2 separate regions of the Homo sapiens genome follow, and region 1 is linked to region 2. Evidence: fine-mapped expression QTL. A gene starts in region 2. The other region holds a variant in brackets. All regions are shown on one strand. Distances are between the middles of the regions. Region 1 overlaps INF2 (inverted formin 2). Region 2 holds the start of TEX22 (testis expressed 22).

The links. PIP is the estimated chance that this variant, and not a neighbour inherited with it, causes the effect.
Region 1: its variant is the best candidate, but not a certain one, in a credible set for the expression of TEX22 in breast (GTEx, PIP 0.87).

Annotation. Positions count from the first base shown.
Region 1 is chr14:104,715,273-104,718,171 of GRCh38, forward strand. INF2 (inverted formin 2) reads left to right here. Exons shown (of 23, transcript NM_022489.4): 22 at 12-68. The coding sequence ends at 67. Among named protein-coding and RNA genes, the nearest start is that of ADSS1, 7.5 kb to the right of the region's middle. RefSeq lists an enhancer at 1-343. The variant G/A (reference allele first, on the strand shown) is at 1,282.
Region 2 is chr14:105,397,176-105,400,074 of GRCh38, forward strand. It overlaps TEX22 (testis expressed 22), which reads left to right and starts at 1,363. Exons shown (of 4, transcript NM_001195082.2): 1 at 1,363-1,460; 2 at 2,127-2,315. The coding sequence starts at 2,166. It overlaps PACS2 (phosphofurin acidic cluster sorting protein 2), which reads left to right. Exons shown (of 25, transcript NM_001100913.3): 25 at 1-972. RefSeq lists a silencer at 876-1,785 and enhancers at 1,453-1,963, 1,964-2,474.

The DNA.
Region 1 (2,899 bases), 680 kb before region 2:
TTTGGAAGCAGAGGTTCCCCCTGATTCTGATGATAATAAAACAAAGAAACTGTGTGTGATCCAGTAAGGTATGTACGCAGCCGGCGCTCCGTGGGGGCTAACAGCAGCTGCAGGGCAGTGGGGCTGGAGCTTGCTGCCCACACCCCTCCGGGACACTAACCTGGCTTCTCTCCAGCCCGCGTGGTGCGTCAGTGTGGCCTTGCCGCTCCCGCAGCCCTGGTGGTGGGCTTCCCGCCCCATCCCCTCCCTCTCCGCAGGTTACCTGCTCAACTGGTGCCTCCTGCAGGCAGGACGCAACCTCAGTGCTGGCCCCGGGCATGCGGGCCTCGAGAGGGCAGGTGGCAGGGCCAGCCGGACTCCCTTAGCAAGCAGGATCCGGGCCCTGGGGCGTGGGCGGGACCTCCTGGCTGGCAGGACAGGCTGAGGTTGCTCCTGTCTGGTGTCCTGGCGCTAACTGCAGTTCCAGTAACCCTGTGGCTTTCCTGCTCTGTCTGTTGGTGGAGGGCTATCTTCACTCTAAGTGTGTCAATGGCGTGGGGCCTTCTGGGGCATGTCCCCAGGAAGTCTGTGAGGAGACCGGGACAGTCGCAAGGGCAGATGCTGCCAGGGACAAGTACACTGCAACCCCCCTCCTGTTGGACAGTGTCCTCCCACCCCGAGGCCATGGGTGGGTCTATGGAGAAGCAGATTACCCCCCGCACACCGAGTCTTCTGGGGGGCGACCAGCCAAAGGTCAATCAGCCAGGTCCGTCCACAGGGCTGGAGAGGCCAATGCATCCAGCTAGACAGGACCAGCCTGCACTGGGTGGAGGAGGGGCTAGAGCAGAGAACCAGAAGGTCCAGCCCGGCCGATCATGAGCTCTGTGAGCCCAGGTCGTGGCGTCTTCCAGCACCTCCAGCCTTGCTCAGAGCCAGCCCGGTGTCGGTGCATCACAAATATGCTGACCGCTGGGCCTGGGGCTTAGGCTCAAGGTGCACACCTGAGGTCTGCTGGTGCCCATCAGAGGCAAGAGCAGTCGTGACCCCGGAGAAGCTTCTCCGGACAGCTTGTCCTCGCTGTTGGGGCACGGCCTTCACCCTGGGTTCCAGCTTTTGCTTCCAGGGTCATCTTCCGAGTGTGGCTCTCTGGTGTGAAGCACCCACGTGTACTTTTTAGAAAGGTGCTGGCATCTCCCTTAGAGGCTGGAACTTGGACTTGCTGGCCCTGAGTGTGAGGAACAGTGGAGCATGCAGGTCTGGGGCGGGCGGCCACATCTGACAATGGTCCAGTGAAAGATGGAC[G/A]TGTCCAGTGCCAGCTCCACGCTCCACCTGGTTCCCTCCTGAACCTGCTACACGTGCTTAGCCTCCACCCGCCCCAGCTCCTGCCACGCACGTGGCTGAGGGCAAGAGGAAGAAGTCCTCTTCTCTCCCCAACTTTTTATTTTTTATTTTTTTTCAAGACGGAGTCTCACTCTGTTGCCCAGGCTGGAGTGCAGTGGTGCGATCTGAGCTCACAGCAACCTCCACCTTCCAGGTTCAAGTGATTCTCCTGCCTCAGCCTCCCGAGTAGCTGGGACCACAGGCACACGCCACCACGCGCGGCTAATTTTTTGTATTTTTAGCAGAGACAGGGTTTCACCATGTTGGTCAGGCTGGTCTCGAACTCCTGACCTCAGGTGATCCACCCGCCTCGGCCTCCCAAAGTGCTGGGATTACAGGCGTGAGCCACCGTGCCCAGCCCCCACCTTTTTATTTAGAAAATCTTCAACACCACAGGAAACTGCATAGATCAGAATGAACAACACCTTCTCCCCGAAATTACAACCATTTGCCAAAAATACCAAAATTGTGACCATTTTGCTACATTGCCCCCCTCCAACTGAGGCATCTGAGAGTTTCTTATAAACATCATGGCACTGGAGCCCTAAACTCGCCCACAGACACCTGAGAGCACAGCCGTCTTCCTCAGTCCCCCCCGGGCAGGGTGCGCTGCCGTCCTCCCAGTCCGCCCCCACCGGGCAGGGTGCGCTGCCGTCCTCCCAGTCCCCCCCCCGGGCAGGGCGCGCTGCCGTCCTCCTAGTCCGCCCCCCCGGGCAGGGTGCGCTGCCGTCCTCCCAGTCCCCCCCGGGCAGGGTCCGCTGTGGGGCGCTTCACGTCCACATGCTTCTAATACTCGGTCCCAGTGCAGATGTGCCACTTGCCCCAATAATTCCTTCTCTAGTTGTTGCTTTGTTGTTTTTGCAAACAAGATTGTATCCAGAGTCACATGCTGTGTTTGGTTATCATATCACTTCAGTCTCTTTTGTTCTAGAACATTCCTGCCCCTTTTTGTCTTGTATGACATTGACGTTCTGGAAGATAACTTCACTTTGGGTTTGCCTGATTGCGCCCCCAAGTAGGTCCAGGTTGAGTTTTGGGGCAGGAGTTCTACCCCAAGGGATGCCATGTCCTCCCCAGCTGGGTGGGGACGTTTGTGGCAGCAGCGCTGACCACGGCTGCGGGGGTGGTTTCTGAACCTCCACTGCACGAACACCACGCTGTCTGGTTAATAAGCACCGGTGGTGACCTGTGGAACCAACCGCTGCAGCGCGGTTCTGTGTTCGCCGCCCCTCGTCCGAGCGTTCCCCCCTCCCCTCCCTTTTTCCATCACGTGAGTTTTGAACGTGCAGTAATCCTTCACTGCCACTGCCGTGCATTTGATGGGGACCAGCGGGGGCCCTGAGCGCTTCCCATCTTTGGCACAAGCCCCTGTTCCTAGCTCACCCCAGACTTGCTGATCCCCCCATCCCTGCACGGGCCTTGGTCTTGGCCATTTCTCCAGGTTCCCTGAGTGGGGAATGGTGCTGAGACCCTCCTTTGAGTGATTGTTTTGGATAGTTTTTGTTTTCTTGCTGTCTGTTTAGAGTAGTGGTTCTCAAAC
Region 2 (2,899 bases):
CTGGGCCATGCCAGCCCTCTGTGCCTCGGTTTTCCCACTGGTTACACAGGATGGTCGCATTTTCCCTGCCTACCTCACAGAGCTGTTCTGAGGGTGCATGGAGGAGCACTCTGTCCCACCAAGGACAACTAGAAACCAAAGCCATCTGACAGCCAGTGCGGTAAGGGCGGGGGATGTGTGTGTGAGGTGTGCACACCCCCCGAGAACCTGGCCCTGGACTGGCCTCACAGGACAGGAGGCAGCCCCTTGTAGAGCTAGGGCTCAGCCCCATCAGTCTCAAAGGTTAAGCCACCAGTCACCACCGAGGCACCCCTCAGGCCTGGTGGCCACTGTCCACTATTACGTAGACAGACCCCACCCTCACCCAGGCCAGCTGTGGGCCAGTCCCGCCCTGCAATCTGGTCTGCTGCCTTCCTCTTCCATGTTGGTCCCCTTGGCCACTGTCTCTGGGCATGCAAGCCAGTGTCCTGGTTCAGTGCCTCGGCCAGAGCTGGGGCAGGAGAGGGGCCTCTGGGTGAGAGCTGGGGGTGTCTCTGCAGGGTACTGGCAGCCTTGCCACACTGTCCTCATTCCCAGATGGAAAGACCTGAGTGCCTCTCGCCTTCCTCCGGGAATGAATTCCTCATGAAAATGACCAGGCCACTTCTTCCGAGGGCCAGGCCGCCCCCTCCCCGAGACCTGTCCTGCCGTCCGCGGGTGTGTGGCCTGTAGGGGACTGAGAGCTGGGCTTGCTGGGCACCTCTGGAATCTGACCCTGTGGGCCAAAGAAGCACCACTGTAGTTTCTGCAGACCCCCATGCGGTTCATTGTGCATTGTTTGGTTTCTAGGATGTATGTGTTGCTAGTTTTTTTTAATGAAACCCTGGATTAATGTAAATAGCTTTTTGGGGAACGGATTCTAATGTCACGTATGTGACCGTGTGGACTATTTCAAGGTGCTGATGCAACACTAATAAACCTGGAGGGGCCGGCCCCCGCCTGCAGTGTGATTCTCTCGGCCGTCCACCCCTTGGGAGCACGCGGCGGAGCAGCGCCTCCCTCCCGCCCGCGCGCCCCGTCCTGGGTCGCCCCGCCCCAGCCCTGCGGCCCCGCGCGCGCGGAGGTGGCCCGGGGCTCAGCGGCATCGCGCCGCTTGAAGGGCGCAGGGCCGAAAGGGGCTCTGGCCGACAAACCCCAAGTTCAGGTCTGTGCTTCGGGAGACCCCGGAGGCCGACGCCCGGAAGGGCCCGTGGGGCGGTAGCGGCCATAGACCCGGATATGCGCCGGGGACCCCCAGACCGCGCCCATCCCCCACCCGCCGCAACGGAGCCCAGAACGCAGGCGCGGCGCAGACCGGAAGCGGAACCGGTGGGGGCGGGGCTTGCCGTAGCGGACGTTCTGGAGCGAGGCGCCGGCCCCTTGGGCCCCCTCAAGCCGCGGTGTACTCCAGCGGCCCCCTGTGGCCTCTCCATCCGCGGCGGGTCTGTCCCTCCTTCTGTCTCCGGGTGCCCACGTACCCCCCACCTCCGACCGCCGTTCCCGTGTACCCCGCCCCCCCGCCGAACCCCAGAGTGCCCACGGCCTCCAGCGTGTGTCCTGAGCCTTCTTCCCCCGTCCCTCCGCGGACCCCGGCCGCGCAGACCCCGCCTCCCCACCGGAGAGGGCGGGCACGTAAGGGCTCCGGGCTGGGCCTGGGGCGAGGCCTGGGCCGCGTGGAGGGGAGGTCTCAGGGTCGGAAGCGGGGCTGTGGCAAGAGCTCTGGGCCTTTCCTTCGCCCCGGGCGTAGCAAGGCCGGGCCCTGAGAGCGTGCCCGCAGTGCTGGCTGAGGGCTGATGCCCCTGGAACGTTTGAGAAGGCTGGCAGAGGCGTGGAGTCCGTGCAGCAGGCTGCCGAAGGCTTTCCAGGCTCCCGGGGTGGGGTCGGCAGGGGCAGAGAGGACAGTTCGGGAGGCTGGTGTGGAGAAGAGCTGCGGCGGGAGCTGGGGGATCCACTCCACCCAGAGGGGTCAGTGATGCCTGACCTTTGGCTGGAAGGTGACCCTAGCAGACCGCGATACTGCCACCATCTGCCCCCAGGGACTCAGGTATTGGTGGGCACGTGGGTGGCCTTGTGGGCCCCGCCCCACCTCCCCCTGCTCCTACCCCCAGATCTCAGAGGTGTGGACAAGCAGCCTACTAGGGCTAGAGATGGACAGCAGGAAACTGTCCCCCCGGGGGAAGAAGCTGGAGTCGCACCTCTCCCAAGAGCACAGGCGGCCCCCACTGGGCCTGATAGCAGCCTGGGGCCAGCCCAGTATCCAGAGCAGCGTTCAGCAGGGACTGCAGACTCAGGACTGGGTAAGCGGAAGGAAACCCTGGCCGAGGCTACTCTCCTGTCCCCAGCCCGCCTGAGGCCGCTGTCTCTGAAAACTCCAGGCTGGTCGTGATGAGCAGCCTCAGGGGAGGGCTGAGTGGGGACTGATGAGAAACAGATGGCTGGACTCAGGAGGCTCTCTTCCCCATGGCCCTGGACGAGCACCAAGGTGGACCTGCACCCTTCTTGCTTCCAGAACCGTGGGCCGCTGGGCTCTGTAGAGAGGTCTTCCAAGGCCAGGAAGGAGGCAAGGCAACACACTTCCCTTAGCTCTCCCCAGTGCCTCCCACCCCAGGCTGAAGGTGGCAAGAAGCGGGAGGGAAAGCAAGGTCCCCAGGGGGGGTGGTGTCCTCCCAACCAGGTGGGGCAGCTGTCAGGAGAAGGATTTGTCACTGAAAGTTGACCAAAACAAAATAGTGGGAGAGGCTCTGCTGTGATTCCCCAAACTGGAAGCATCTCCTGGTCTCTCTACTGCTGGACAGTGAGCTACAGGCTTGTGTCAGGCCCAGTAGTGAGAATGGTGGGATATAGCTGTTCAGCCTTAGGACGTTCTCTGAGGGCAGAGGAA